Linked DNA regions of Homo sapiens. The protein of the gene in region 2 purifies or fractionates together with the protein of the main gene of each other region. This does not show direct contact. Each region holds a gene or a part of one and is shown on either strand. Other genes may lie near its edges. The genes, in order: NETO2, NLRP10 and ATG2B.

The links.
Region 1: the proteins of NLRP10 (region 2) and NETO2 purify together in Homo sapiens (affinity purification with mass spectrometry; one large-scale study listed by BioGRID and IntAct). This does not show direct contact.
Region 3: the proteins of NLRP10 (region 2) and ATG2B purify together in Homo sapiens (affinity purification with mass spectrometry; one large-scale study listed by BioGRID and IntAct). This does not show direct contact.

The regions. Positions count from the first base shown.
Region 1 is NC_000016.10:47,137,296-47,140,956, reverse strand, and holds part of NETO2 (neuropilin and tolloid-like protein 2 isoform 1 precursor), read left to right. Parts: intron 1-3,661. UniProt on the Homo sapiens protein: Accessory subunit of neuronal kainate-sensitive glutamate receptors, GRIK2 and GRIK3.
Region 2 is NC_000011.10:7,959,634-7,962,499, forward strand, and holds part of NLRP10 (NACHT, LRR and PYD domains-containing protein 10), read right to left. Parts: intron 1,690-2,866; coding exon 11-1,689; 3' UTR 1-10.
Region 3 is NC_000014.9:96,278,650-96,281,134, forward strand, and holds the end of ATG2B (autophagy-related protein 2 homolog B), read right to left. Parts: 3' UTR 546-2,485; downstream 1-545. UniProt on the Homo sapiens protein: Lipid transfer protein required for both autophagosome formation and regulation of lipid droplet morphology and dispersion.

The DNA.
Region 1 (3,661 bases), on a different chromosome or scaffold from region 2:
TTACATGAGGATTATAAATCCATTTTTTGTTCTTATTCTGCACACTTGCTTCAGGAGAATCTGTTCGACTCAGCAATATTTCAAGCTGTAGAAACTGGTTAAATTTGTAATGTAACAGCAAAAATATTCCTTGGCACTGTATTTAAAAATCTTGTCTGAGACGGTGCAAGTATTAACTCGTTTTTCATTCTTACATTTCACCCAGGACTATAAACTAGTTATACAGAAATAAGTGTGGTACTGAAAAACTTGTCCTTTAATACTAAAGCCTTATTAAAAATCAACTTTTTGGCTTTTCCTTCCAGGGGTTGGGAAAAACTGTTTTAACACTGTCAATTGAAAAGTCTTATTAAATAATGGTTTTTTTGTAGTAAATCCTCAACTGCAATCTGGTTTATCTTTCATTTTGAAATTAAAATCACTATTTAGGAAAAACCCTGCATGACAAAACAAGTTGAAATCAAAGCCATTTTCAGTCCTTTTTAGAAAAGATAGAAAAATGATAGACTAGAAATAAAGTTCATATCTGAAATTTTAAAACAATAGACTACCTCCTTCTCTTGGGGTACCACCCATCCAGCACAATCTCCTATCATTTTTCAACTTACGCTCCTGTAGAATAATTATTTATACTTAGAAATACGTCTCCCTGAGGCACTGGAGATTGAAATTATTATGATCTTTGAGTTGGAAAGGAGCATCTTAAGAGGTGGTCTAATCCAATGGTTTCCAAACTTCAGAGGAACTTTTGTGAGGAAGCACTTGAAAAAAAAAGGAAAAAGGACAACAGAACAGAGTTGCTGTGATTGGTGGGAGGCCTTGCCCTCTCAGTCACCTCAAACACCAGGGTGGCTCCAAGAACTGACACTTCAACGGGTTTGTTATATTGCTTCCAAAATTACAGGGTATACTAATCTGAAAGTTCAGTCCTTTCTAATCAAAATGACATTAAGACATGTTGGTTTAAATATGCCTGGAGTAACATTGGAAATTACAGCACTAGAAGATACCAAGTAGTCTTTCAAATATGACCTGATCATGTTAGAAGGTGATGGTAGTCACTGTACAGTCAGGAGGACTGATGTGTAATTAAAATACAGCTTACAAAAGCGCCATCTCAGATCAGCTCGACTAAGGAGGAGTTTGTCACATTCTGCAGGAAAGAGAAAGCACTTCTGCTATAGAGTTACTCTTTCTTACTAAAGTGATTGGCATGTCATTAGCATATGTAGGCTGGAGTGATCCCAAAGTTCACCATCCATCTTTGTTCTTAACTAGTAAAGTATGATTGAGTTTGATTAAATTTGGGTACTTTTTTTGTTCTTTGGAACATAGTTTATCAAAAACAAGTGACTGCCATGTCAAATAGTATGTGGACTCTAATTGAACTCTGTTCTGCTGTCATTATAGGAAATGGTAATGAGCAGAGAGACCAGGTAGGTGGTTCTCTGTGTTGGATTTTAAAAGCTTTATGTTTACCACTGAGTTGCTTAACACAGGAAGATGTAGAAAGAGACACACTTAATTACTAACAAAGGTAAATTGAGCCAGCTTGAGGAAAATAACAGTGGTGGCAGGGTATCTCAGGAGGGTGGGGGGGAATCTCAGTTCTTTTCCCATCCCCTGATTTGTGCTCGCATTTAAAAAAGCAAGGTCACATGTGTGGCTACTGTTTGTTCATCCAAGATGTGTGCCTGTCAGTTACTGTGCTATGTGTTTGCGGTTACAAAGAAGATGCACTGGAGTCGCGCTCAGTCACCCCCATGTGTTCATCGTGTCTGTATTGAATACTGTTGAGGCCAGACAGTCTTTTAGGCTGTGGAGATGCATCAGTGAATCAGACAGACAAGGCCCTTCTTTCTAGTGAGAAGAGACAGACAACCAACAAGACTCAAAATACCAGGTAATATAATAATGAAGTAAAGCAAAATGAAGGAGAAAATGTAGCGCTTATTTAGAAATTGGGAAAGCCTCACAAGACCTGAACAACAGGAAGGAATCAGCCAAAGAGATTCTAGGCCGAAGGCACAGCTGGTTCCTGAGGCAAGAATTAGCTTGATGTGTTTTGAGTGATGGGAAGGCGGCCTGTGTTCTAGTAGAGAGCGCTCGGAAGGCCAGAGAGACACGCAGGCTCCAGGTCACATAGTACCTCCGAAGTCAGAGTAAGGGGCACAGAGTTGTTCTAACTATAATGGGACTCTACTGGAAGATTTTAAGCAAGGCTGTGATGTGATCTGATTTGTATTTTGAAAAGGTCACTGGCTGCTGTGTACATAATACACTATAGGGACTGTGGCAGAAACTTCCAGTTGTCTAGAAATGTCCATTTAACTATTTGTCAGTAATTCTCTGAATTTAACTGAGCGCACAGTTCCCCAAAATGAAGACTATTTACCAGTTTCCTGTTGGTTTAGGTGACCATGTGACTAAGTCTAGCCAGTTAGATATAAGTAGAAAATGATGTGTGCAACTTAGGGGAATTGTTGTTTTTGTTGTTTAAACTTTTATTTTGAAATCATTGTAGATTATGGGCAAGTGTTTTTGTTTTGTTTTGTTTGAGATGGAGTCTTGCTCTGTCACCCAGGCTGGAGTGCAGTGGCACGATCTTGGCGCACCACAACCTCTGCCTCCCAGGTTCAAGCGATTCTCCTGCCTCAGCCTCCCCAGTAGCTGGGACTACAGGCGTGTGCCACCATGCCCGGCTAATTTTTGTATTTTTATTAGAGACGGGGTTTCACCATATTGTTCAGGCTGGTCTTGAACTTCTGACCTCATGACCCGCCCACCTCAGCCTCGCAAAGTGCTGGGATTACAGGCGTGAGTCACCGCGCCTGGCCCTGGGCAAGTGTTTTTAAAGAAAGAGAGAATGCCCTTTATCAAGTCATCATTCTTGATAACTAGAATGCAGACATGGGAGCTATAATGAAGATAGAATAGCTGGCACTCCAGCCTCATACTGGACCATAGGGTGACCTTGGAAATGAGCCTCTCACAGCTGGGTAGTGAGACAGAAGGAACCCAGGTCCTGGTATTTATAGAGCCTTCACTCTGATGCTTGACTCCCTATGTCCAGCTTGTTCGCATGACAGAGCAATGTATTTCTATCTTGTTTTAAACTGTTAGTTTAGGTATTTCTGTTACTCATGCCAAACCTAATGCTAACATAGAAGTGTGCAAAATCAGTATAAGAACAAAAAAATTAAAAAACAGATGGAGAGCTGTTGAATGATCAGAAGTGAAAAGTCTGAATGCAGTCAAGTAAAATTAATCTGGAAAGGGTTCCTGGAGAAAGCAGGTTTTAGAAAATGTACTTTCATGGAAGCAAAGAGGTCCAAGGTCCCTGGCAAGTGCAGATGTTCAGAAACAAGAAGTATTTGTTGGAGCCCTTATAAGAATAGATAGTAGAGCCTTCACCTCAAGTTCAACGTTTCCAAAATCGACTCAACTCCTTTTCGCCCACCCCTGCCCTGCCCAATCCATATTGGTCCAAACATGTCTCCTGCCACTACCAAAGGAGGGAAAAGGCCACCTCTCACTGTTGCTTTCAGTAATCTGCCATGCTCCTGTTGCAGTGGTACTCACAGTGTGGTCCCAGCTCCAGCAGCTTCTGCATCCCTAGAGAATTTGTTAAAAGGCAGATTCTCAAGCCCTGCCTCAGACC
Region 2 (2,866 bases):
TTAATTAGGTTTATATGTAAGTATTTTTTGGTGTTTCCTCTGTCCCTCTGCCTTTTCCAGTAGAAGCTTCCTTTTGTGTTCCTGCTATATTATCTTTGCCCTCCTTCTGTCCATGGACAGAAGGACATTTTTGCTCCTCCTTAGGTCCATGACTCAAGCTGCTTTTGACAGAAAATAAATTCTGGCTCTGTGATTTCTTTTCATTTGAATGTTTTATCTTGAATGATACATTGTTCATCTGAATACCTTTTACCAGATTCTTTATTTTAGCTTCATACAGGGAGAATTCCAAATCCCAGGTCCTGTTGTGCTTCATAGATTCCATCTGTTCTTTAAAATGCTTCAGATCCTGCGCTAAACAGGGAGAAATTCTGAAGCAGAACTTGAGCTCCAAGTTCGAGAAGCTGTCTTTTTTCGAGATGTCCAGTAAAAACTGCATAGTGAGGGTCATCTCATCATTCCCTTCCTGCTCCTTTACCTCCAGCAGCCTTTGCACTTCTCTGCGGGACTCCTTCCCCAGCCGGCTTTGGTCCTCTTTCACCAGGTAAGACATGGCATGAAAAAAGTCCTGGAAGCTGATGTGGCGGAAGCTGTAGAACTTCTTGATGGCAAGTCCCAATTGGTAGTCGTTACTACTCAGGAAAGCGGCAAGCCTGGGGCCATCTAAATTATGTTTCCTGAGCTCAGCTTCTTCAAATAGGAACCTCTGGTGCTGAATCCCTTCAGCTGCTAGGGAGCACAGACTCCTCAGGACCCTGTGCCGGGAAAGCTCGGAGCAGCCCCCATCATCATCGGGCGGCAGAAAGGTGGAGACGTAAGCCATGAAGATGTCAGTGCTGTTTCTAGGTGTCTCTAAGACAACTTTGCCTCTCTCCATCTGCCCCTGCAGCCAGGAGCAGACCACCCAGCAAATGCCTGGAACCTGACACGCTTTGTAGAGAATGTCATTTTTCTGTACAATGTCGAAGGCACGGTCAGCTTGCTTCTCATCCGTGAAATAGGAGCTGAAGTACCTCGCCCTCTCCTCCTCAGAGAAGCCTAGGATATGGACATGACGTGCTTGTTTCAGCAAGGGCTCCAGATTCCTCAAAGCCAGGGGCCGGGTGGTGATGAGAAGGGAGCACGTGGGGAGTGTATGTCTCCTAATTAGAAGGTGCAGCAGGCTCTCCTTGGGACTCAAACCCCTCTTCTTCAACTTTTCTTCAAAGGGCCTCTGCAGCTCATCAAAGCCATCCAGGATGAACAGGAGCCGCTCTGGCTGCCTCAGAATCTCTGTGACAGGGGCTTGATTGTCCCCGCAGCACCAGAAAAGGAGCTGCTCCAGTTTGCTCTCCAGCAGCAGGACCACTTCTTTGCAGCTTACATAAAAGACATAATCAAACCGGCCTGGGTACAGAGTACCGGTGGCCCAGTCCAACACCATTTTTCTGGCGAGAGTTGTCTTTCCAGTGCCAGCCGACCCCTGTAGCACAACTAAGGATGGGGCCAGTGAGGGCTTTTCCCCTGAATCAAATAGAGCCTCCACCGTGACAGACTCCAGCTCCTGCTCCGGGAAGGGGCAGGCAAGTGATTCTGGGCTCTCTGAGCTGGGCTTGGCCACCAGGAGCACCTGGTTGTATCTGCCATTGACTCCTGCTTCCTGCCATTCCTCTAGGCAGCGCACATGCTCTCGGTATACTTCTCTGTAATCTGAGCCAAACAAATGGGATGTTAGGTAGTGAAATGGGAATTTTAGAAGGCAAAATGGCCCCTCCAAACTGACTCTGCTCATTAGTCTTCTTGTATGTCTCCAACTTGGATCTTGCTGAGATTATAGTTCTGGCTTCATGGGGAGGGGCCACTGTATGTGTGCATGAGTGTGTGTGTGCAGGCGCAGTATGCATATGCACATCTGTATGAGTGTGCAAGGGTGTGCTCTGTGTGTGTGGATAGTTGTGCATGAATGCTGGTATCCACATGTGCTCGTGGACCTTCATGTACTGTTGTGGAGGGAAGTCATGTCAGTGTGCATCAGCAAGTGTGTGTCTGTAAGAATACATGTAAGTGCAAAATGCCTGTGTGAGAATGCATGAATGTCTGAGTGTTCATGTGAAATGTCTCCATGTGAAGAGGTGAGGACAGAGAGAGGGGAAAGGAAAGGGATGCCTGAGGATGGTGAAGTGATAGGAGCCTTGATATAGTTTGGGTGTTTATCCCCTCCAAATTTCAGGTTGAAATGTGATCCCCAATGTTGGAGGCAGGGCCTAGTGGGAGTTGTTTTTGTCATGGGGGCAAATCCCTCATGAATGTCTTGGGGCCCTCCCCACGGTAATGAACGAGTTCTTGCTCTATTAGCTACACAAGAGCTGGTTGTTTAAAGAGCCTGGCACCTCCTCCCCTCTCTCTTCCTCCCTCTCTTGCCATGTGACACACCAGCTCTGACCTTGCCTTCTTCCATAACTGAAAGCTGCCTGAGGCCTCGCCAGAAGTCAATGTTGACAATATGCCTCTTGTACCACCTGCCAAACCATGAGCCAAATAAACCTCTTTTCTTTATAAATTACCCAGTCTCAGGTATTGCTTTATAGCAATACCAAAGGGACTAAGATAAGCCTGTTCTTTTTTTTTTTTTTTTTTTTTTGAGATGGAGTTTCGCTCTGTCGCCCAGGCTGGAGTGCAGTGGCGCGATCTCGACTCACTGCAAGCTCCGCCTCCCGGGTTCACGCCATTCTCCTGCCTCAGCCTCCCGTGTAGCTGGGACCACAGGCGCACGCCACCATGCCCGGCTAATTTTTTTGTATTTTTAGTAGAGACGGGGTTTCACCGTGTTAGCCAGGATGGTCTCGATCTCCTGACCTCGTGATCCGCCTGTCTCAGCCTCCCAAAG
Region 3 (2,485 bases), on a different chromosome or scaffold from region 2:
ATGGCCATTGGCTCACATGACTTTGAGGCCAGGGCAGGCCCAGAGCTGAGAGGGGATTAGAGAAGAGCTACCAAGTCTTCACTTGGCTCAGAGACAGCCACGAGGTGCCTGTGGGCTTCCCTTACCCTGTGCTGCCCACCATGTGCTGAGTATTTCCTTCCTAGCACCTGTCTGTCACATGGAGTGGTCACATCTCTTGCTGGGACCCTGGCTGATACTGAATGTGAATGTTACATTGTCAATACTGATACTGAATGTGAATGTTACATACCCTGGCTGATACTGAATGTGAATGTCCCCCTGCCCTGGTGAATGAGGCAGGGCAGTGTAATACACTGGGTCTCAGAACTTGTCTGCACATGAGAACCAGGGGATCTCTCAAAAATGCCAAAGCGCAGCCCACACCAAAGACCAGCTAAATCCCAATCCCTGGGGTGTATTTTTAAAGCTCCCCAGGGGACTAATGTGCAGACAAGTTTGGGAACCATGACACAGTGGCCAAGAGTGTTGTCGAGTGCCAAGCAGAGGAGTCGCCACATAGGAAATAGTCAATCAATGATGAACTTTTATTTCATATATATTTATATTTTAAAAATTATTACAAGTATTGCTAAAATCAAGAAAACGTGAGCTTACATTGAATAAAGGACATCTGTAAGTAGTAATCATGTGATCTTGGGCAAAGAATTTCCCCTCTCCGGGCTTCGATTTCCTCACCTGCAGACAGGACTAGATGACCACTCGGGTTCACTCACTCATTCATTCATTCATTCACTCATTCACCATTTGCTGATCCCTGACTCTGGGCAAGGCACTGTGCTAGGCACCGGGTCCCTAAGTCCCTTGCCCTCCTGAAGGAAGTCAAACAGGGAAACAGACGTGGATCTACAGTATGCGGGGAGTGCCGCAAAGTTTAACAAACAAAAAAAAGGAAAGCATGCTATAGTGGGAAACAGAGAGGAAGGGAGGGTGGCCAGGCTGCCTGAAGTGGAGCCTCCGGGCTGAGACAGCAGGAGCAGCCAGAGATCCCGACAGAGCATCCGAGTTGGGGCGGCCATAGCGCGTTCTTGCCCCAGGCTGTGCATGATTTTCCCCAGGAGAGCTCTTAGCCCAGTGATTTTTAACAGGGGATTTTTGTCATATTTGGCATATTTGGCCATGTCTGGAGACGTCTTTGGCTGTCACAACTGGGGGAGGGGAGTTTGTTACTGGCATCCAGTGGCCAGAGGCCAGCGGGGGGTGGGAGGGTGGCAACATCCCCTGCATCCTACAATGCACAGGCTGGTCCCAAATGTCAACTGCTGAGGTGGAGAAACCCGACTTTAGCCCCATTCTGAGATTTTGCTTTAATCAGTGTTGACTGTGGCCTGTGGTGCAGCATTTATAGAAAGAAATCTTCCAGGTGGTGCTAACCCCTACTCACGGGCATGCAGAACTGAACCGCTGGGGTGGCTAAGCACAGCCAGAAGAGGGGAGAGGGGCTGGAGACGCCAGGAAGAGATCAAGCACATTTTCTTGCTCAAATATTCTAAGAGCCTTTAATCTCAATCTTCTAGCAAAATTCTGTGGTTTCCCAATTAGTGAAGACTTTTTGCTAAGTTAGGTAACTGCTCCAAGCTTTTCTTAAATGAAGTCCTGGGAAGAGCATGAGGTCTGGAAGTCAAACCATGTGACGGTGAGCAAGTTTCTTGACCTCTCTGAACCTGTCTCCTCATCTGGAAAACAGGGACTCTAGTAACTGCCTCTGAGTGGGGGCTGTGAAATTATAAAAAGACAGTAGGATACTTGGCACACAGTAAGCATCTCACAATTGTCCCCATCCCTTTTTTCAACAAGAGCCATGGGTGAAGTGTGACTTGTCATTTTTTCCCTAATTGTTCAAAGTGGATGTTATATAGTCACATCTGTCACAACAAAATCTTTTAAAGTAAATTGCCCTTAAAAATAAGTATGTCTGGCCAGGCACGGTGGCTCATGCCTGTAATCCCAGCATTTTTGGAGGCTGAGGTCAAGAGTTCGAGACCAGGCTGAGGTTAACCTGGCCAACACGGTGAAACCTCGTCTCTACTAAAAAAACAAAAAATTTGTGGGGCGTGGTGGCAGGTGCCTGTAATCCCAACTACTCAGGAGGCTGAGGCAAGAGAATCGCTTGAACCCAGGAGGTGGAGGCTGCAGTGAGCTAAGATTGCTCCATTGTACTCCAGCCTGGGCAACAAGAGCAAAGCTCCGTCTGAAAAAATAAATAAATAAAATAAAAATAAGTATGTCTTTTAAATATTCCCTTCATAAGTAAAAATACTCCTCCAAATAGTTATCAGTTTCGTGATATCAAACTAGGAGGTGTGTTTGCTGCAAGTCCTTATTGCAGGGATAGGATAACTAATAGAGGGACTAAAATCCAAAGCAGGGAGGGAAGAACTGTTAAAACTCCATACAGCTCAGCAATCAGTAGCAGACAGACCCAAGATCTGCTATCAGAAGCATC